Linked DNA regions of Homo sapiens. The protein of the gene in region 1 interacts with the protein of each later gene in a biochemical or structural test. Each region holds a gene or a part of one and is shown on either strand. Other genes may lie near its edges. The genes, in order: UBR2 and NTAN1.

The links.
Region 2: the proteins of UBR2 (region 1) and NTAN1 form a complex in vitro, tested with the Homo sapiens proteins (one study listed by BioGRID).

What each region holds. Positions count from the first base shown.
Region 1 is NC_000006.12:42,669,660-42,681,249, forward strand, and holds part of UBR2 (E3 ubiquitin-protein ligase UBR2), read left to right. Parts: intron 1-432; coding exon 433-581; intron 582-1,000; coding exon 1,001-1,056; intron 1,057-4,131; coding exon 4,132-4,228; intron 4,229-4,466; coding exon 4,467-4,534; intron 4,535-6,396; coding exon 6,397-6,532; intron 6,533-7,123; coding exon 7,124-7,214; intron 7,215-8,879; coding exon 8,880-9,010; intron 9,011-10,064; coding exon 10,065-10,173; intron 10,174-11,590. UniProt on the Homo sapiens protein: E3 ubiquitin-protein ligase which is a component of the N-end rule pathway.
Region 2 is NC_000016.10:15,051,308-15,063,522, forward strand, and holds the start of NTAN1 (protein N-terminal asparagine amidohydrolase), read right to left. Parts: upstream 4,768-12,215; 5' UTR 4,665-4,767; coding exon 4,584-4,664; intron 4,508-4,583; exon of another isoform or gene 4,348-4,507; intron 1-4,347. Other genes in the region: RNA polymerase I-specific transcription initiation factor RRN3, read right to left, coding at 10,437-10,598, 11,889-11,976. UniProt on the Homo sapiens protein: N-terminal asparagine deamidase that mediates deamidation of N-terminal asparagine residues to aspartate. Required for the ubiquitin-dependent turnover of intracellular proteins that initiate with Met-Asn.

The DNA.
Region 1 (11,590 bases):
CTTGCTGACTTGTAAGCCTCACAATAAGGTGATCAGGACACCTCCAGTCTTTTGCTTGGTGACCCCCGAATGTCTGTGTAAAAACAACTTTCCCCTGAGGATTGTTCACTGGAAAAACTAATCTCTGTGGAAGTGGGTATACATTGCTGATGTTCTCAGGATGGGAAACAGGGTCAAGGATCTCATTGTGTAGTGTGTAGGCTTGTGCCCAGCACCCTGTTTTCAGCCCTGTGCCTCACCCCTGCTAAGTCAAAGAGTCTAACTCCTCTTGGGCAGGGGCAGTTTGCATTATCTCTGATCACTGCATACAATTATCTCTGGATATATGTTAAGTGGTTCAATTTCAATATAGCAAAGAGCTGTTAAGAAACCGAACCATTTGATTGATATGTGCACATTGTTCTGAGCTAATTTTATACATGTTTACTTCAGGATCCCTTATTCTGAGAGCATAAAAGAAATGCTAACGACATTTGGAACTGCTACCTACAAGGTGGGACTAAAGGTTCATCCCAATGAAGAGGATCCTCGTGTTCCCATAATGTGTTGGGGTAGCTGCGCGTACACCATCCAAAGCATAGGTAAGAGATTTACAGCTGTTTCTCTATAAGTCACAAGCATTCATTGATATGAATTAGGCATAGAATCTTGTTTTTAAATGAAATGTTTGAAGTGGGTAACAACGTGAAGAAATAATAAAAAGACTTAGAAGCAAGAAATGTAATGTACTGACAAAATACTAGATTGATAGTTCATAAATTAACCACAGCAACAGAGAACTCTTGGTGGTGGTGGTTATAGCTTCTTGTCAGTTGAAGGAATGTACTGTTCGTTTTTACTTTGTAACCAAATTTAATTCTTGTGAAATGACTTTGAAGATTCTGAAACTTGACAATATTGTACTTTCTGTAGGATTGGGGTTTTTTTAACCTTTTTAAGAAAATTATATTAAAATATACATAACATAACATTTACCATTTTAACCATCTTTAATCTGTAGAAAGAATTTTGAGTGATGAAGATAAACCATTGTTTGGTCCTTTACCTTGCAGACTGGTAAGTTCTCAGTTTATTCAGTTCATGATAGTGGGGCATGGAAATTAGGTGGTTCTGCTGCTTTTAATCTTATGGACCTGCAGTAGTTACTTACACCTTCACTTCTTTCGTAGTAAAAACCCATTTTCTGTAAGGATATTAAAAAGTAATGTTTGTGGTTTAATCTTTCTTTTAAATAAACTTCAGGAGGCCGGGCGCAGTGGCCCACGCCTGTAATCCCAGCACTTTGGGAGGCCGAGGCAGGAGGATCACCTGAGGTCGGGAGTTTAAGACCAGCCTGACCAACATGGAGAAACCTCGTCTCTACTAAAAACACAAAATTAGCCAGGCGTGGTGGCGCATGCCTATAGTCCCAGCTACTCAGGAGGCAGAGGCAAGACAATCGCTTGAACCCGGGAGGCAGAGGTTGCGGTGAGCTGAGATTGTGCCATTGCACTCCAGCCTGGGCAACAAGAGTGAAACTCCATCTCAAAAAAAAAAAAAAAAAAAAATTGCAGCCTGGCAGTATAGTGAGACCTCATCTCTACACAAATTTTAAAATTGGCTAGGAGTGGTGGCGTGGCATGTACCTGTGGTCCCAACTACTTAAGAGGCTGAGTTGGGAAGATCACTGGAGCTGGGGAGGTTGAGGCTGCAGTGAGCCATGATTGTGCCCCTGTACTCTAGGCTGTGCAACAGCACAAGATCCTATCTTTAAAAAAAAAAAAAAGAAGAAGAAGAAGCAGAAGAATGTATATTCTAGCTCCACTTTCTTGCTAACCATTCATATTTCAACTCCTGCAGTTTGGCTCCACTTCTAACACTTTCTGACTTCTATGAAATATCTCTTTCCAAGTTCACCAAATGATCTCCTGATTATCATTTTGCGTGGGCATTTTTTAGCCCTTGTCTTTGAAACCTCTACTTAATTGCTCATTCTGAAACTTTTATTTCTCTCCATTCCTTCTTCATTCTGAAACTCAATTTTCCCTTAATTTCTGTGACACTCTTGGCTTTCTTTCTGCCTCTGTGGCTCCTGCCTCTCAGCCCACTCTCCCTCCTCCATCCTGCAGTTGTCATTTTTAAACCTCCAGAGTTCTGCCATCTAATACTCTTCCCTGGTCAGCCCCATCTATGCCTCTGATTTCAGTTATATCCAAATGATCCCCACCTGTGTATCTCCAACCCAGATCTTTATCTTAGGTGTAGGTTATCTCTGCCTATTTTTTTAACCTGGATCTCCTACACATACCTAAAATTCAATCCAAATTAATTTTTCTTCCTATAGTCCCTGTTTTAGTTAATTTCACCACTATTCATCCAGGAGAAACCAGAAAATTGAAGTCTTTTTTTTTTGAGATGGAGTCTCACTCTGTTGCTCAGACTGGAGTGCAATGGCACAATCTCGGCCCACTGCAGCCTCTGCATCCTGGGTTCAAGCGACTCTCCTGTCTCAGCCTCCCGAGTAGCTGGGATTACAGGTGCATGCCACCGTGCCCAGCTAATTTTTGCGTTTTTAGTAGAGATGGGGTTTCACCATGTTGGCCAGGCTGGTCTCAAACTCCTGACCTCAGGTGATCTGCCCATCTCGGCCTCCCAAAATGCTGAGATTGCAGGCATGAGCCACCATTCCCGGCCTAGATACATTTTTTAGCCTGGGCATTCACATTCAGTTGGTCAGCAGAGTCTGACAAATTCTCACCATTCCTTCTTCTACTTGTTTGGTTCAGCCCCATATTATTTCTTGCCTAGATTATCATAGCAGTTTTTACCCAGAATCTCACTCTTCTCTAATACGTTATTAGAGGGGCTCCTCAAAAGCAATCCTGTTCATATTCTTCATACTTTTACAAACTTCTTAACCTATTTCTCCATTATCACCTCCTGCCAGTTCCCACCCCTGTGGTCCAGACTTGTAGAATCACTGCCAGTTCCTCAATGCTAGTTCCCATGCCTTTGCACATTCCATTTCCTCTGCCTAGAGTACCCTAAGCAGACTGCTACTCTTTCAGATGCTGTTCAAGCTTTCCCTTCCCTTAGAAAGCCCTCTGAACCATGTACTGTGAGTTAGAGACCTCTCATCTGTGATGCCTGCCTCCTTCCCCACTTTCTTCCTTTCCCACCCCAGGACTTTAAGCTCTTTGAGAGCAGGAGGGGGAGAATGGGTTTTATTTGAAGATCTTCAGAACCAAGACCTAGTGTATATAGTAGGACCTCAATATTTATTGAACCAAACATTACAGAAAATTTGGAAAATGAAAAAACAAGCAGGAAGAAAAAAGTCATCAACTTATCACATACCCATCTTTTTCCATTAGCATATTTATGCTTGATTACAATTGGTACTCACATGTAGCTTTGTTTCTGCTGTATTCTTTAAATCAAGAGTTTTCTTATTACTGCTACTTAGTCCTCATAACAATTTTTAATAGCTGCAGGCACCCTCATTTGTACCACCATCTTCTTAGACAGTTTCCCCAATATTTGGAGTATCTCTTTAGGATACTCTACATTTTACGGAAGAGTATCCACATTTTAGAGGATCTCTTTAGGATAAACATAAGAGATATGTGTTTTAGGGTATCTGTTTAGGATAAACATAGAGAAATACTGCATCCGCATCTTGGCTTGTTTATTTGTTTTTTGAGATAGAGTCTCGCTCTGTTTTCCAGGCTGGAGTGCAGTGGTGTGATCTCAGCTCACTGCAACCTCTGCCTCCAGGGTTCAAGTGATTCTCCTTCCTCAGCCTCTCGAGTAGCTGGGATTACAGGTGTGAGCCACCACACCCGGCCTGCACTGGCATCTTGGGAGTGTCCCTTGCTTTCTGTCAGATGCGTATATTCTATATTCTTTTCTTTTCCAGAGAAAACCAGCAACATGGTGGCAAAGAGATAGATTTCATTTATTCAGCACACACTTAGACATTTCCCATTCCATTTATCCTGTGTTAGAGGCATGTCATTGAGATGTCATAGATCTAGTTCCATACCATCTAGAGCAGTTTCATTGTGCATCCAGCTGTGCTCTGAACTAGCATTCCTGAAAGAGAACTGCTTTGCATTTTTGTTTTTTGTTAATTGCGTTGGTTTATTTTAGGATGACTGTCTTAGGTCATTGACGAGATTTGCCGCAGCACACTGGACAGTGGCATCAGTTTCAGTGGTGCAAGGACATTTTTGTAAACTTTTTGCATGTGAGTATTAATACATTTATAACATGTTGTAATTTTTCATCCTCTGAAATTTTGTTTTTAATGGTACAGCTTCTCTCAGTAATGAATTAAATATTTAGTAGTACTGGTTTTCTTATATATAAGCTCTAGCTTATAAATTCTCATGTGTCTTGCAAGAAGATAAATTTAAAGCAGATTATATGCATTTTAACATGTTGGCATATGAAATATGCTAATGTATTTCTCTTTAAATCTGTAGCACTGGTGCCTAATGACAGCCATGAGGAACTTCCATGCATATTAGATATTGACATGTTTCATTTATTGGTGGGTATTGTGCAGTTTGTTTGGACTTCTACGTCATACTATGTAACTTTACCTTAGGTTTGGTGAGCAGTGTAGTGGCAGACAGGAAGGAGTTATGTGATTTCCTTACCCCTTCTGAGTATAATTCTTTTATGAGAAACCTCAAAAAGAAAATATTTAGGAACCTAGTTGAGAGACTTGACCTGGTTATCGAGACGTCCTCTGACTCTTATTTTGCTTTATGGCTGAGGTTAGTATTTTAACCTCTCTGTGCTTTTAACCTGTAAAGAGATAAAAACACCAGCAACGGGTCAGGTGTGGTGACTCATGCCTGTAATCCCAGCACTTTGCGAGGCTCACCCCAGATCACTTGAGGTCAGGAGTTTGAGAGCAGCCTTGCCAACATGGTGAAACCCTATCTCTACTAAAAATACAAAAAATTAGCTGGGCGTGGTGGCACATGCCTGTAATCTCAGCTACTCAGGAAAGTGAGACAGGAGAATCACTTGAACCCAGGAGGCGGAGGTTGCAGTGACCAAGATTGCATGACTGCACTCCAGCCTGGATGACAGAGCAAGACCCCATCCAAAAAAAAAAAAACAGCAACAGAAGCACTGCTGCTGGCCCATACAGTGCTTTTGTACATTTTCGAAAATCTGGCAGATACAGCCCTGTGGTCACACTACTTAGCAGCAGAGAGCCCCTTATAATTCAGGGAAAGGTATGTCCTCTGAGCCAGGACATCCTAGTGCTAAGACACACAGCTGTCCAAATAGTGGGTAGCCAAATTTCAGCCCTACCTCAACTGGGTTCCCTTGCACAGGGTACAGAGTGTACTGCCACACCCAGCAGCCCCGAGTGCTGTGCCTTTATTCTCTGGACCTCAGATTCTGCCCCTTTAAGTTGGTTAGTACCTACTTTATATGACTATGTCAGAACTCAGTGAGTTAATCCATGTAACACACTTAGAGCAATATATTCCTAATAAATGCGGCTATTACTGTTCTCATTGCTGCAACTAAAACCACCACCACTTATACTGCCATGCAGACAGCAGGAGGCCAACAGAGCTAGCATTTGTGTACCTGCCAGCTTTTACATACGTTCACACTTACATCTCTACAATTTACATGTAACATATTGTCTTTAGTTTACCAATAGGGAAACTGAGGCCTGATCAGAGATATTAATTTGTGTAAAACAGCTCATAAGAGGAGGAGGTAGGATTCATATCTAGATATTTATGGGTCCAAAACCCATGTTTTTTCAACTGCCTACAGTCCTGGAGAGAGTTCAGATACTGTTTTTGTTAACAATAAGCTATGTATAGAGGACCCACTGGATTAATGAAATCATAGTGCCCATCAAGAGTCCTGTAACTCAAGTCATTTCATGTAGCCAGTCCTATTGGATTTTCCAACATGGATGCCCTTTCTTTAAGAACAAAGATTTCTTAAAGGGAGGAGCTGAACTCAGGAGGGATCACAGTAAGAAAATGGAAATGTGACCAGGCGCGGTGGCTCACGCCTGTAATCCCAGCACTTTGGGAGGCCGAGGTGGGCGGATTACCTGAGGTCAGGAGTTCGAGACCAGCCTGGCCAACGTGGCAAAACCTCATCTCTACTAAAAATACAAAAAGTCGGGCATGATGTTGCACGCCTGTAATCCCAGCTACTCAGGAGGCTGAGGCAGGAGAATCGCTTGAACCCAGGAGGTGGATGTTGCAGTGAACCGAGGTTGCGCCATTGCACTCCAGCCTGGGCAACAGAGTAAGACTCTGTCTCAAAAAAAAAATCAAAATAAAAGTAAAAGTAAGAAGATGGAAATTTGCTTAGCTGTGAAAGGAAAGGCGATCTGTCTGATGTCCTGTGTTTGGTGCCTAGGTGGGCTTGGTGCTTGCATTTCCTGCGTTGCAGTGTCAGGATTTTTCAGGGATCAGCCTTGGCACTGGAGACCTTCACATTTTCCATCTGGTTACTATGGCACACATCATACAGATCTTACTTACCTCATGTACAGGTAACTCTTGCCTTTTTGTCAGTTTCTTGAAGGAAATACTTGAGTTTTCTGAGTTTTAAAAAAAGTATTAGAGGAAAAGGTATTTGGATGAGAATAACACATGAATAAGGCTGTTTTTTTCTGTGTATCTTCATATGAAAAGTTTTGAAACATTTCTTTCTCCTCTTAAAATTTCCTAGTAATGTGAATGTTTCTAGTTTTAATTTCATACATTCAGTAATATTTGTGTAGAATAGTAATTAAATCTTTTAGAATCTTATGTTTTAGAATGCCAATTTTGTTTTAACTTACATGTTTGTTAATGCCCACATGAATTCATCATTAAATTACGTTTTGCATTCAAAATTCTTGTTTTTCATACACTTTAAGACTATATTTATTTGATTTTACTTAAAACATGCCAGCTGGCTGTTTGGTTTGATTGAGATCAATACTGTGCTCCCACTTGAGGGATTACAATTTTGCATGTTTTCTAGGAATACTTCATGTTATATGTGAGTTTATGAATATATTTGCATGCTTAATGTCTTCAGTCCTTTTGATAACACTTAATTGGAAAATACAGAGTACTAGTATTTCCTTATCTTTCAGAAGAGAATGGCATGGATCAAGAAAATCCCCCTTGTGAAGAAGAATCAGCAGTTCTTGCTTTGTATAAAACACTTCACCAGTATACGGGAAGGTGAGTTAGTTATCTTTACATAACGCATTTCCCTAAATATTGCTAGATGATGATAGCATGAGAAAGGAATTCGTTTGTTAATTAGGGGAATTTGTTGTCTGTTGACATGTTTTTAAAATAAGACGTGGAGTGATCTGCAGAGCCTTTCTGAACTATTCATATACTAACATAATTGGAAATCTGGGAGAAAGGTGATAATATGCAGAGCTTCCCACATTTATTTGGCTGTGGAACCCTTCATTTGCTCAGGGATCTGGCAGAGACTAGAGGATAGATCAAATGTACTTTGGAAAGTTGATACTCTAAAACTTATGTTGTCTCATTCAGAATGGGAATTTAAAACTGCAAGTTAAATTGGCATAATTTATTTTTAAGGTAATATTCAGTAGTAGCAGGAATAAAATGAAATTATTAGAATTCCATGTATGGTTAGAGTCATGATTTGCTACAAATAGCAATTCAGTAGTTTGCTTAGCTTTCAACAGTATATATGTCAAGAATCTGTAGTCAGGAACCTATAAAAATGTCTGTTTTTTGACTATCCCATTTCTGAGAACCTACATTAACAAAATAATTCAACATATAGAAAAAAAACATATAGGCATATAAAGATGGACACTCCAGCCAGGCACGGTGTCTCACCCCTATAATCCCAGCACTTTGGGAGAATGAGGCTGGCAGATTGCTTGAGCCCAGGCATTTGAGACCAGCCTGGCCAACATGGTGAAACCCTGTCTCTACCAAAAAATACAAAAATTAGCCAGGCATGGTAGCATGTGCCTGTGGTTCTATCTTCTCAGGAGGTTGAGGTAGTCAGATCACCCAGGCAGGTGAAGGCTGCAGTGAGCCATCACACCACTGCACTCCAGACTGGACAAAAGAGTGAGACCCTGTCTCAAAAAGAAAAAGATGTACACTCTGATATTATTTATATTAGCAAATAATTGAAAGCAATCTAAGTGTTTGCAGGGGAATAGTTTGATATAGTGATGAATGTGTTCCAAAATATTATAAATCTATTTAAAATATGGCTCCTAGGAGCTGGGTGCAGTGGCATGTGCCTGTAGTCCCAGCTGCTCAGGAGGCTGAGGTGGGAGGATTGCTGGAGCCCAGTAGTTTGAGTCCAGCCTGGACAACTTTTCATTTTCCACATTTTCTCTTTATGTCACTATGTTACTTTTATAAATTTTAATAACATCACACCTGTAATCCCAGCACTTTGGGAGGCCAAGGCGGGCAGATCACAAGATCAGGAGATCGAGACCATCCTGGCTAACACAGCGAAACCCCGTCTCTACTAAAAATACAAAAAATTAGCCGGGCGTGGTGGCAGGCACCTGTAGTCCCAGCTACTCAGGAGGCTGAGGCAGGAGAATGGCGTGAACCCAGGAGGCAGAGCTTGCAGTGAGCCGAGATTGTGCCACTGCACTCCAGCCTGGGCGACAGAGCGAGACTCCGTCTCAAAAAATTTAATAACAGCATTGGAGGCTGTGTCACCACTTACACCTGGCATCCTATAATAACACACACCCACTTGCCTGTTAACTCACAACTTTTAAGCATACATGCCATCAGTTCCAAATGACAGTCAAGTCTGTTTTCACACTATAAGTACAGTGACCTTTTCTTAGTAGATTTCCCAATAATCTTTTTTTTCTTTTTTAGTGCCTTGAAAGAAATACCATCCGGCTGGCATCTGTGGAGGAGTGTCAGAGCTGGAATCATGCCTTTCCTGAAGTGTTCTGCTTTATTTTTTCATTACTTAAATGGAGTTCCTTCCCCACCCGACATTCAAGGTAATTTATACTTTCTTTCAAAACGTAGGGAGAGTTAGTAATCCTTTACTCCAGCAAATATAAAGATCACTTGCAAAAATGAAAATTGACTAAAAGTTCAAAGAATAGCTTATTGACTATGGTGATGTACACATTTATAGCATAAAATGTATGTTTATGCATATGTCTCCATTTATTTGGATCTCAGTAAATGACTGTTAAACTTCTGTGTAAATGTTTTTACACCTGCAAAGCCCTTCTCCCGTAAAGATCATAGTTTTGCTTTCAGATGTTAAAATGTTCAGTTATGTATTATTCATAAACAAGGTTCCTCAGATTTGAAAAGGTGAAAACTGACAATTTCAAGTGATTTTTAACTTGAAACATGCATAGCATTAAAATTTAGAATACCCATAATTGCACATAAATCTGATTTTAATCTGGGAATTGATTTGCTCTTTCATAGTTGTTTTCCATGTTCTGTTTTGATTCATTTCATAAAAGTAGTATGAATGTGGACTTGACTGTATCTCTGTATCCCACAGTGCCTGGCACTGGCCGTAGAGTACCTGCATGCAGTGCTACTCTCTGAAAGTTTGTCCACTGGCATTTCCATTTAGCTAGTTGCCTAGGAACCATATAAAAGAGTTTAGTCTTCCAGATTATTTGCAGTGATGATTAGAGTTGGTATTTAAATCTGTGTCTCGTGGTAAAACCATCTTGTATTTCTGTATTGGTTGATCCTTTTCCAGAGCACCCATACATTTTTATCATTTAATGTTCACAATAACCCTGTGCAGTAGATTGTGCAGGCACACCATTTTGCAAATGATAAAGCCGAGACACCAGGACATTGGGACCAGTTTGATGTAGGAGTCGCCTGACTGCACTTGACGCATTGCGTCATTTTCCATGGATTCCTTCCATGTGCCATTCTGTTAACTTCCTACAAGTTACGTACCTGGCAAATTGGAAGTCTTTCATCCTTTTTTTTTAAACTCTGCTATTGCTTAACTCTCATGCAGAATATGCCCTTAGTTGTTATATGCACTCTTTTCTTGTTCTTCATTTGCAGTTCCTGGAACAAGCCATTTTGAACATTTATGTAGCTATCTTTCCCTACCAAACAACCTCATTTGCCTTTTTCAAGAAAATAGTGAGATAATGAATTCACTGATTGAAAGGTAATGATTATATACTTTTCTTTGTTGTATTAAATAGCTCTATGGAACCAAACTTTAGTTATCACATATGTAGCAAAATTCTCAAGTAATGACCCTGGTAGAATTCAACACAAATAATTCAAACTATAATGGGTGGGCCTTTTGTTGTTGTTTGTTTTGTTTTGTTTTGTTTTTGTTTTTGTTTTTGTTTTGAGACTGAGTCTTGCTCTGTCACCCAGGCTGGAGTGCAGTGGCATGATCTTGGCTCACTGCAACCTCCACCTCCTGGGTTCAGGGGATTCTCCTGCCTCGGCCTCCCAAGTAGCTGGGGTTACAGGCATACACCACCATGCCTGGCTAGTTCTTTGACCACCATGTTGGTCAGGCTGGTCTCGAACTCCTGACCTCAAATGATTCACCCACCTCGGCCTTCCAAAGTGCTGGGATTACAGGTGTGAGCCACCGCACCTGGCCTATGAGTAGGCCTTTTTAGCTAAGGATCTGGCTTTTCAGTAAACTTTTTGCCAAGCTAGTGAATAGCATAAACAAATTTGCATGGAAGGGGAATAGTGGTAGAAATGTTGATTTCTTTACATGAACTTACTTGTTAAGGACTCTCTTCCATAGGTTTTTTCTTGTTTTTGTTTTTAAGAGATGGGGTTTTGCCATTTTTTCCAGACTGCCTTTGAACTCCTGGGCTGAGACATTCCTCCCACCTCAGCCTCCTGAGTAGCTGGGACTGCAGGCACATGCCATCACACTCAGCTTTTCATAGATTTTTAAAGCTGAAAGAACCCTTAAGGCTATCTAGTCCAATACCCTCAACTTTATATTTGAGAAAAGTGAAGTCTAGAGAAATTGGCCTGTCAATCATGTCAAGTTAGTGACTGAGTTAAATATATGGCTGTTCTGTCCACAAAACGGGGGAAAATATTTGCAAACTACATATCTGATAAGGGATTAACATCCAGAATAGGCCGGGCACAGTGGCTCACCCCTGTAATCCCAGCACTTTGGGAGGCAGAAGTGGGAGGATCACTTGAGCCCAGAAGTTCAAGACCAGCCTGGGGCGGGGGCGCGGTGGCTCACGCCTGTAATCCGCAGCACTTTGGGAGGCCCAGACGGGCGGATCACGAGGTCAGGAGATCGAGACCATCCTGGCTAACACGATGAAACCCCGTCTCTACTAAAAATACAAAAAATTAGCCAGGTGTGTTGGTAGGTGCCTGTAATCCCAGCTACTCGGGAGGCTGAGGCAGGAGAATGGCGTGAACCCGGGAGGCGGAGCTTGCAGTGAGCCGAGATCATGCCACTGCACTCCAGCCTGGGGGACAAAGCGAGACTCCGTCTCAAAAAAAAAAAAAAAAAAAAGAAAGACCAGCCTGGGTAACATGGCGAAACCCCATCTCTACAAAAAATTTAAACATTAGGCATGCTG
Region 2 (12,215 bases), on another chromosome or scaffold:
AGAAGAGAGAATGCCAGAAAACTAAAACAGTAGACTGCTTTGCTCTATTTTTTAATTTCTTTTTTTAAACAGGGTCTTACTGTCTCCCAGGCTGGAGTGCAGCGGCGAGATCGTGGCTCACTGCAGCCTCTGGCCTCAAGCAATCCTCCCACCTCAGCCTCCCAAGGAGCTGGGAACTACAGGCATGAGCCGACACACCTGGCTAGTTTTTGTACTGTTTGTAGAGATGGGGTCTCCCTGTGTTGCCCAGGCTGGTCTCGAACTCCTGGCCTCAGGTGATCCTCCTGCTTCAGCCTCCTTTGCAGTAGCTGGAACCACAGGCGCACGCCACCACACTTGTGCTAGGATTATAGGCATGAGCCACTGTGCCCAGCCTCTACTTTATTTTTAATTTTTTTTTTTTTTTTTTTAGAGACAAGGCCTCACTCTGTTGCCCAGGCTGAAGTGCTGTGGCCAGATCATAGCTCACTGCAACCTCAAACTCCTGGGCTCAAGCAATCCTCCCACCTCAGCCTCCTTTGCAGTAGCTGGAACCACAGGCGCACGCCACCACACTTGGCTAATTTTTGCTCTTTTAAGTAGTAAAAAGAGTTTAGCCAAACTTCCCTTCTTTGGAAAACCACACAGTCCTACTTTATAAATTCATATGCAAGTAGTCCCAGTTTTCTTAACCTCTAATATGCTCTAGACACTAATATTTGCTTAAAAAAAAAAAAGCTTTTCCCTCAGTCCCTCATCCCTATTTCCCAGTTCCTATTCAATGGCAGTATTCTCTTAACCCAGTGACCAGCAGATTTTCTGAAAAAGGCCAGACAGTAAATATTTGGGGTTCTACAAGGCCGCAGTCTCTGTCACAATTGCTCAACTCTGCTGTTATTATGAAGTGAAAGCAGCCATAGACAATACAGATGTGGCTGTGTTCCAATAAAACTTTATTTATAGGTGACACCGAAGTTTTAATTTCAATACCATTTCCCATGTTACAAAATATTATTTTGATTTTTCTCAACCTTTGAGAAATATAAAGACCATTCTTGGCCTATAGGCTATACATAAGCAGGGTCCGGCCCATGAGCTGTGGCTTGTTGACCTGTGTCTTAGCCAATCACCTAGCTGTGACCTGGGGGATGATCATGTGACCCTCACCCCTGCTGTCCTGTTTATCAATTCTTCCTTTATAAACAGGAGAGGGGCATGAAGGTGATCTGTGAACTGTAAAGCACAATGCTATATAAGAAATTATGAGGCCCAACACACTGGCTCACGCCTGTAATCCCAGCACTTTGGAGGCCGAGGCGAGATGATCGCTTGAGGTCAGGAGTTTCAGACCAGCCTGGCCAACATGTTGAAGCCCCATCTCTACTAAAAATACAAAAATTAGCCGGGCATGGTGGCAGATGTCTGATACTCAGGAGGCTGTGGCAGGAGAATCACTTGAACCTGGGAGGCAGAGGTTGTAGTGAGCCAAGATCGTGCCATTGCACTCCAGCCTGGGTGACAGAGCAAGGCTCTGTCTCTCAAAAAAAAAATAAATAAATAAATAATAAAAGCAGGAACTAAGCTACGCTGCGAGCATCTTGTAGACTCTGTGGAACCGTATTACCCAAGATGTTGCAGGACTGGTTACCGAGTACCCAGTGACTGGTTAAGAGTGACTAAGGGAGGGCTCTAAACAGCTCTGGCCAAAGGAACTTCATGCTGGGATGGCCACCGTCTATATTCACACTGTCTCATTAGTAGCCATGCTGTCTGCTCGGCACTTGAAATGTGGCTACTGCAACTGAGGAACTGAGTTTCAATTTTATCTAATTTTAATTGATTTTTAAGTTAAATCCTAAGTAACCAGATGGCTCGTGGCTACTGTACTGAATAGCGCAGCTCCAGAGTCAAGGGCAGGCTGCCAGGGTTCCAATCCTGGCTTCACCACTCCCAGGATGTGGGGCCTGGGGCCAGTTTCCCAGCCTCTCTGTGCCCCACAGTCCTCATCTGTAAAATGGGAATAGCAGTAACTCTTGCTGTGGTGCTTGGCAGCTTCCACTGTATGACTTATTGTTATTATTTGCTAGTCATAGCTACACACAGGCTTCTAACTGTTGGTACTCCATACTCAGAACACATCGTTACATGAAAAAGACACATTATAAAACAACATATAGTAAGCTATCATTTTTTTAAAAAAAGTAAATTATATACAAAGAAAAACCTTCATTAGGACTTTCACCAAACTAAAGAATGGTTGTAGTCATACTTTTTTTTCTGTATTATTATATTTTGCTTTCCTACAAAGAGGACACCCTGTTTTATTATATAAAAATAATCCAGGCCAGGTGGAGTGGCTCACACCGGTAATCCCAGCACTTTGGGAGGCCGAGACGGGCAGATCACTTGAGGTCAGGAGTTCAAGAACAGCCTGGCCAACATGGTGAAAACCCGTCTCTACTAAAAATAAAAAAATTAGCTGGGTGTGGTGGCATGCACCTGTAATCCCAGCTACTTGGGAGGCTGAGGCAGGAGAATCGCTTGAACCTTGGGAGACAGAGGTTGCAGTGAGCCGAGATTGTGCCACAGCAATCCAGCCTGGGCCACAGAACAAAACTAAGTCTCAAAAAAACCAACCAACCAAACAAACAAACAAAAAACCCAACCTTTAATGTCTCCCTGTTGCTAAGTAGGTGAAAGGTCCATCTAAGCCCCTTGGTCATTTGGTCATCTGGGTACAATCCACCCCTGTAAGGTTACTTTCCATGCTTCCCCTCCTCACCCGGGCTGCTCCGGAGAAACTGGCCAGGACACCCACCCACTGGGCCCTTCCCCTCCTGCCCGCCGCGCCCCAGGCGGCTTGCCCAGCTGCGATGCCCTCACCCTTCTTCTCCTTTTCAAATCTCTCTCGTGCCTGCATCCTTCTTCACTTACACTGCCGCAAATCAAAGTGATCGCCCCCTTCCAAAGTTCCTGTAACACAAACTGGTCCCCAGTACACAGCCTTTCTAGGACATGTCTTCTTAAATAGGCCAAAACCTTCCTTCGAGAGAAGCAGCCCCGGTATGTCACCAAATCTCCCTCCACACTTAAGTGTGCAGCCCGGGACACCCATCTAACTTTCTATCACGGACATTTTCAAACAGACATAAAAGTAGAGCATCCCCTAAATTCTTCAGGCGGCTGAAATTATTTTTCCTTGGTGAGTCCTACTCTTGACTTCGCTAGCTAACAGGACAGTAACACAACGCAAGGATAAAGTGACACGCCACCACGCCTAGCTCGGTGCATGTTGGCTAACAGACGATGGTCGGTCCTGAAATGCAAGCTGAGAATCACACAGAGCTGTCTGCCTTCTCCCCGTCAGTAAGTCCTTGTCACCCTTCAGAACACGTTCAGGGGTCATTTTGTGACCTCATTTATGCAGCAAATCTTTACTGAGCGCCAATTCTATGCCAGGGACCGTCCTACACTCTGAGGATACAAAAGTGAGGACACTACTCTTATCTGCCTTCAGGAGGCTTACATTCTGGCGACAGACCAATAGAGAACAAACAAGCAAACAAAATAATCACAAACTGTACAGCTGTGACAGATGAAACCTCTAAATGCCTTCCCCAACCCAACACACTTGGTCAGGTTCCTGTGCTTCCCATCTCAGAGTGAAAGGGGACGCTTTTTCTTTATGGTACTTAACAGTTTATAGTATCTGAGCCTTCTTCATCAGAAACCATTCTCCCTTCTAGACTATAAACACTCCGAGGGCAGGGACAGTGATCAGTACGTTGCCCAACAGATATTAGGGGCTCGATATTTGACTCTCAAATCAAGGAACTGATTGATTCCCCTTTAACAGGATCTATGGCAAATAGGACGTCTGCCCCCGCCGCCACGCCCCGCTCTTTTTAAAACCTGAGAACCCCCTTGCCAACAGTCCCTGCATAAGCGTGGACAAGAGTTCAGAGATCTATTTGAGCACAAAAGCAGAAAAAACAAAAACAAAACCCGTGCATCAGGGCGTGGTCCTATGGCCCAGCTGCGGAAAGCAGGGCTCTCTCTCCCGGCTAAAAATAACTCGGCGCCCTACGCCCCGGGGGTAGGGGAGAGAGAGGAGGAAGGACTGGGGGTCCCCGCCAAGATCCCCCAGGCCAAACGCTCTCCGAAGCCCACCCTGGAATAACCTCCTGCTTCACGGGGACGCAAGGACGAAGCAACGTTCACCGCAGGCTGCGGGTCCCCGAAGGCGGGCGGCCGGATTTGCCTAAACGGACCCAGCCCTATGGGGGCTGCAGCCGCCCCGTCGGGGAATGGGGGTCCCGGCGTGTCCCCGAGCCGCAGTGCTGTGCGACCTTGGGCAAGTCACCTAACCTCTCTGGGCCCCCGTCCCCTCCCTTGTCAGAGAGTGGCCTCCGGGGCAGCCCGCTGAAGTCTAAAGAAGGCAAAAACTCCCCGACCCCTCAAGGGGAAGACGCGAGCCGACGGCCGGGGCTCCGGATGTGCCAACAGCGCCAAGTTTCAAGTCTGTGTCGCGTGAGGGGGGCGCTAGCCCGCCCTGCAGCTTCCCCTCGGGCCCGCCCCGAAGCCCCGCGCCGCGCCCCACTCACCTCCAAAGGCGGGTGGGCTCGGACGAGGTCCCCGGCTGACTGCGGCAGCCGCACTCGCCGCCCCTCGACGAGCAGCGGCATCGCGGAGGCGGCCGCCCAGGCAGGCCCAGGGAGGCGGCGGCCCCCCGCTTTGCAGCCCCGGGCCGCCCGCCGCCCCCGCCCCTCGGGCCGCGCGTCCCGCCTCGTCCTGCCCCGCCCCACCGCGGGCGCTGCCGGGAAGTGGAGTCCAGGCGGAGGCGGTGCCGGCCGAAGAGACTGGAGAAATCCAGGACATGGCCGCAAGGCCTCACGGGAAATGTAGTCCAAAGCCAGGAAGTGGCCCTGGAAGCAGCGCGCGGCCCGCCTCCTCCGCAAGGGGCGCTGGGAAGTGTAGTCCCAAAAGCGTGGGAGTGAAGGAGCGGGGAAAGGAGAGCTGCCAGGGAGCAGCTGCACCAGCCAAGAGAGCCTCCGGGCGAGTTCCTGGGGCGGGTTCTGGCTCCGACTGCTGCGCTTTAGGTCATTGCTCCACGCTTCCCAGGTGTGTGACCTTCCACAAGCTTGAGTTTGGGACCCTGCTGTGCAGCTCCGTAGGATTGCATTCAATGAGTAATAATAAACCTAATCAGGCGGGCACGGTGGCTCACGCCTGTAATCCCAGCACTTTGGGGGGCCGAGGCAGGAGGATCGCTTGAGGCCAGGAGTTCGAGACCAGCCTGGGCAACATAGTGAGACCCACCCTCCCCCATACCCTCGTCTCTGCCAAAAATTTAAAAATTAACTGGGCACGGTGGCATGCACCTGTGATCCCAGCCACTCTGTAGGCTGAGGCGGGAGGATCTCTTGACCCCAGGAGTGGGAGGCTGCAATGAGCTATGTTTGGGCACTGCAGAGGGACACTCTGTTTCTGAAAATAATAAAAATAAATGTAAACGGTCTTAAACTGAGAAAATAGATCCTGAACTGTGCTAGCCCCACGTACTAAAGAGATCATCGATTAACACGTCGTGATTGGAATGCAATAGGCCACTCACAGGTGGGCTGGGAACCGTGGGGGAAGGATTTGCGGATACTGACTGCAGAGCCCCTAATCTGAGGACAGGTCCCCAAGGTGAGAGGCGTCTCACCGTGGAGCTCTCTTCTAAAACTTGGAAATATTGCTCAAATTCATCCAACTCTGCAGCACATTAACAAAAAGTAATTTTACAAAAGATACAGAGGAGCCACATGATACAGCAGAAACTTTATTAGAATTTTATCATCTGTATTCATCGTCTTCTTTCATAAATCTCCCCCTCAGCTTACACACCCCGTTCAACAAAAATACCAGGAAATTTACTAAAGAAATGACTGTAGAAGATGGTGTTCCCATCGCCAGGTTACCCAACTTCTCACCCAAAATAACTCTATTTCTAGCTACCAGGAAATTATTTCTCTGTATTATTACACCTACATTTCTCATTTGTCCTTACAAATGTAGGAGCTACTATCAACACCTCATTTGTCATTTGTCCTCACAAATGTAGGAGCTACTATCAACACCTCCGTTATAACAGATACAGTAACTTGCTCAAAGTGGTAGAAATAAGTAGTAGAACGAAGACTGAACCTAGCTTTGCATGATTCCAAAGGCAGTGCTCTCCATCACTATAAGATGCTCCTAGACTGTACTGTAAACAACTCATTCTAATGCAGGTGACATTAAGTAAGTCCCAACTAGGAAGCTCGGAGCTAAAAACAGGGTTTGAAACCAGGGTGATCAATGACCAGCAGGCTGGCCTGGAGCAAGTTACTTAACTTCCCTGAACTGGTTTTGTAGAATAGCATGTTTGTTTCACCTGGTACATACTAAACACTAAAGATAGCTATTATTGGAATTGCAGAGCAAAGAGTAGTCAATCAAAGTGAGGCATTTGGAAGTGCAAAGGTGAAGAACAAGGTTCTGTGGGTTCTGCCTGGGGCTGGTGCAGTTTGCCTAACTGGTTTTTCACTTTTGGGTGATCTTTTTTCAAGTAATCTCAGGTTATCAATCTCCTAGGCTGAGTACTGTGTTAAAGGACTAAATGAGCCAGATAACAAGCAGGAAACCACTCCCCTACCTCTCTTCCCACCCAGCTCCACAAATTTTGGTCTACAGGCAATGAGGAAGCAATAGCAGGTGTGTGGCCAGCACTGCGGCTCATGCCTGTAACCCCAGCACTTTGAAAGGCCGAAGGAGGACTCACTTGAGCCCAGAAGTTCGAGACGAGCCTGGACAACACAGGGATCCCTGCTTCTCCAACAAATACAAAAATTAGCTGGGCATGGTGGCAGGCCTGTAGTCCCAGCTACTCGGGAGGATCAATCAAGCCCTAGAGGTCAAGGCTGCAATGAGGCACGACTGTGCCACTGCACTCCTGCCTGGGTGATTACAGCAAGACCGTCTCAAAAAAAAAAGAAAAAGAAAAAGAAAGCACTAATTACAATGTTGGAAAGCCTGTTTCTTTAAGATAGGAAACCAACCTGCCTCACAAGATGGCTGATGGCAAAGTTCAAAGAATATATACAGGGAAATATTTTTTAAATTACACTTTTTTGAGGCCAGACATGGTGGCTCACGCCTGTAATCCCAGCACTTTGGGAGGCCGAGGCGGACAGATTGCTTGAGGTTAGGAGTTCAAGACCAGCCTGGCCAACATAGTGAAACTCCATCTCTACTAAAAATACAAAAATTAGCCAGGCATGGTGGTGCGTACCTGTAGTCCCAGCTACTCAGGAGACTGAGGTGGGCGGATCACTTGAGCCCAGGAGGCGGAGGTTGCAGTTGTTGAGCTGTGATTGCACCACTGCACTCCAGCCTGGGTGACAGAGTGAGACTCTTGTCTCAAAAAAAAGAATGATGAACATTATACAGAACCTTAGTAAATATTTAGTGAAAGGATCCCAATTTGTGTTTCAAATTTTTTAATGTAGAGATGGGGGTCTCACTATGTTGCCCCAGCTGATCTCAAACTCCTGGCTTCAAGAGATCCTTTTGCTGGCCTCCCCAAGTGCTCAGATTACAGGCATGAGCTACCACACCTGGCCCCAAATTATTAGATACATTATAAATCCTACTCAACCATCCAGAGTCAGACTGAAACACACAAAAGCATTTGATGGAAGAAAACATGGTGGAGCTTTGGATGTTCAATTAGTTGAAACAAGAAAAGTATGCAGTTGTACACCAATGAACAGTTCTCAAGGCAGCCTGCACCTTCGAATCACCAGGGGGCTTTAAAAACCATCCATGTCCAGACCCCTCTTCTGGAGACTGATTCAATCAAAGGTTGAGTTGGTGTGTGACGTGAGCCTGGGCATCCTTAGTTTCTCAGCACTCCAAGGGACTGATTCTAGGGCACAGCCAGGGTTAAGAACCACCATCGTAAGCACTGCCCGGCAAGGGAAACACGCTGGTTCCTCCTCTCCAGTTCAGATCTAAGTTGGTACCAGGGAGGTAGGTATTATGGAAGAAATAGAAGTTATCTTTAACCAAAAAAAACTTCCCATGGAAGTGCTTCCTTTCTTGCAAGAAAACAACAGCCATTAACTTGTACATGCATCGAATCCTTAAAGCCTTACACTAGTATCTTATTCCCATTTTACAGTTTAATTAGCGCTCAGAGAGGTTAGGTAACTTGCTCAACGTCAAACAGCTAGCTAGGAAAGGAAGCCCATGGCACTTGGTAAGTTGACTTGTAAAAATTCAGCCACTTCTCATCAAGGAAGACCAAACCAGAGCACACAGACAAAAGGACAGACCCTGGAGACTCCTACAACTGACAGCTTTTTAGTGAAAGGAAAAATTCCCATTGTTGGCATGTAATTTATAAGGAGATTTCACAGTATTTTTCCCCATAGATGTCCCTTCAAAGCATGTAACTTTTTGAAAGAAGTGTCTGCTTCCCTTGGACCTGCTCAAGCCTCAATCACTCTTTGCTGGGTGTGATTAAGGAGAGTCGCGGATACTTCATATAGTGCACACGGAAACCATCCTCACCCCGGCATGCAATGAATTCCATCAAGCTCCCCGCCACACCAGCACTATTTCTCCCTCTTCAACAGCAATGCCTCAGGAGTTTTCCACTGCAAAATGCTTTAATACATTAAATTAAAAAAAAAAAAACAAAACAGAAATTGAAAGAACATGTATTGAGGTACCTTTTATTGGTATAAGAACGTAAGTTCCAGATTAACCATGTCATTGTTTCATTTTCACCATGGATTTTTTTTCACAAACTCCTTTGAAATTAAACAGACTTATATGTAAATGTCTTTCTACATTAAAACTACTTCCCAACCCACAAAGACCCCACTTACTACTAATTTCTGGGGAATTTCGTTTACTCGTTTTATCTAATATTAAAAAATCAACATTTTGCCAGCAGTTAAAAAGACAACCTTAAAGTTCTCAAATTACTTTCCACCAAACCCGGAAAAGAAAACCACCCATATCCAAAACTTTAAAGCAATAAAAATTTCTATTTTCCAAAAAAGTATTTACAGACTGAAATTCAAACTCTACATTGCCATCAATGTAATTATACAAGTGCATACAAAGCCCTGGAAAAGAGGAAGTATTTCATTACAAAATATTTATGATCAAGAAAATATTGCTTGCCTTTAAATAAAGTGGCAGAAAATAAATATGCTTAAAGATGGCCATTTTCACAAGTAAACAAAAAAGTACACATGTAAGAAACAAAGTGAAAATGCTTGAGCTTCAAAATGACTCTAGCAGTGTTTGCACAAATTTGTTTTAAAGCGAGGTCTTCTGAAGACTTCCTCTGTTTAGTTATAAAAATACAAAAAGAGGCTTTAGAGAAGGATTTCACCAAGCCGAATGTGCGATGCACACAGCCATCAGACCAAGACTGCACTAGCAACTTCCACCTATTGTTGTGAGCAAAACCGTACACCAAATAATCTAAAAAAATTTTCCTGTTTCCAACAAAGAAATTCCCAATAACTAAGTGATGCAGATCAAAACTGACTCGATCTAATGGCCACCAAGGAGCAGTTCTAGATCTAAGGGGACACTTGAGAGCCAAGGGGTCAAATCCAATCTCATGTGTTTTACACAAGCCCGAACTCACTTTCAGTCTGTGTGAATTACATCTACCTGGACCTCCATTTTTGTCTTTTAAATCCATTTTTTCGCTGTGCCAAGTATATTACACATCTGATTCTGTTTCCCTATATCCTCTCTCTCTTCCCTATGGGCTTTTATTGGTCTCTGAAGTCCCTGGAGATCTTCAGTGCCAGCTCCAACTCTGTGTCCCAGACCATGTCGGGCCAGCTCTCAGCTTTCCTTCTGTCTTCTCTACACTCCCTTGAAATCCCAACAGACAAATACCAATACAGCAGAAGGTGAACAATGTAGCCAAAATAAACACTTTCTAGTTAAAGTCTTTAAATAGAAGTTTTATCTTAGAGGATTCTTCACTGAAAGCTCATCAGTCAAGTCCTAAGACCATGGATCTGACAAAAACCCATGTTAAAACAGCAACCCGTAAAACAGTCTGCTGCCTATATTAGAAATTACCCAGTAATTGTGTCAAAAAGCTGTTAACACAAAAAATGTACATATTAAACAAGCAAATCCTTCCAAATGTATCATCAACCCCACTGTAAAAGATTGCACATGATAGTCTTCATTTTGTCTGTAAGGGGAACAACAACAACAAAAAAACCCAGTCTTCAGATGCTTGATTCAGTCGAACCTGGAAGTGCCACAGCCGAGGCAGGCACTCGCTCTAGTTCAATGCCATCAATGCCCAATGGCACAAGCTGGGTGCTGAGGGCATGACAAGTGATGGGGAATCCCAAATGTCACATCTCAGTCACAAATTTCTGCCGTCAGAGGGGACTGGGTTGCATGTACAACACGGGTGGGGAGCCCACACTACTTGAAGGACTTCGGAAATGCGTGTCAAAGGAGCTTGGTGTGATCCCAATCACGGTATCATTCTGGGGCACTTCGCCTTTCAGAAAGTCATCATCTTCATCTTCCACTATGTCCTGCAGAAACATCAGAAATCATCAGTAACATCACCAGTGCTGACTGAAAAGCTTTCAACAATTCCTTCCTCAGGAAGGTGTTAACGTTTGTAAAGATGGTGAAGAAAATATCTTAATTTCAAAAGAAAGCCAGTGTAGTGGCACACGCCTGTAGTCCCAGCTACTCAGGAGGTGGAGGTGGGAGGACTGCTTGAGCTCAAGAGTTCCGAATCCAGCCTGGGCAACATAGCGAGACCATGTCTCTAGAAAAACAGAACAGAACAAAAGCTCCCTCTGATAAGCACTTCCTTCTTACCAACATACCCACATAACTGCTCATCACACATTGTAATCATTTGTTTCAAGTCTGACTTGCAAACAGATTTGAAGCTCAATGGGGACAGGAAACATGACGAGTCATTCTTGCCCAGTGTTAGGAACTCTTGTACCTAACACAATGTGAATGAATTACACGCCCCTCAACAAATGAAACATAAAGAAAAAGATGAAAGGGGCTTTCCAATGATTACTTATTAAAAACAACAACAAAAAAGCCATCTTGAAGCTGCTTTTAATGAGAAAACAAATGTGCTCCCAAGCAACAGAGCAGCGAAATTCTTTATTACTGGATTCTAACTTTCCTCTCTAACTGTAACTGTCTCAGCTCCACCTCATGTGACCTGGAGGGTATGTTGCAACCTGCGTCTTCACCACCCATTCATGAAGATCTATAAAACTAATGTAAACTGCTGGGGCAATTTCAACATGAGTCAACTGGAGATTGTTACTTGGTAAGAATGCGCAAGTGGCAAAGATCTAAATTCATTCAGCTAATTTGTAATTAACCTTCGCTTCTCACATGTCAGTATGTGAAGTGTCTGGTTTAAGCAATTTATCCAAAAAAGCCATAGACTCTTTAAATAACAACAAAACCTGGGCCTGGAATTTTATAAAGGCAGAATGAGTAAGACACGGTTTTGGTGTGCTTTTTTAAAGAAAACAGGGTCTTGCTCTGTTGCCCAGGATGAAGTGCCATGCTGCATTTACAGCTCACTGCAGCCTTGACCTCCCACCTCAGCTTCCAGAGGAGCTGGGATTACAGGTGTGCACCACCACGCCCAGCTAATTAAAAAAATTTTTGTAGAAACAGGGTGTCACTGTGTTGCCCAGGCTGGTCTCCAGCAATCCTCTGGCCTTGACCCCCTAAAGTGCGGGGATTACACGCACGAACGACTTGCCACTTACTATCTCACTGTGACCTGGAACCAGAAAGGAGATTCCGAGAGTGTGCTCAATCAATCACAAACTGACCTTTTTCATGGGTTTCTTGAACTCCTGTAGCTCTTCAGCACTCATGTCTTCCCACACCTGATAAATAGGATCAATGAATTTCTTTGACCTGTCAACAAAGATCACATTTCAAAGTCAAGTTAAATACTTCGGCAGAAGTCAAAATTGGTTTGGATCTTTTCTCACAAGATCTATTACCCAAAACCAAGAAGTGAAAACTACAGCTTAAATAATTACATTTAAAAAAAACCTGGCTGGGTGCAGTGGCTCACGCCTGTAATCCCAGCACTTTGGGAGGCTGAGGTGGGCAGATCATGAGGTCAGGAGATCGAGACCATCCTGGCTAAC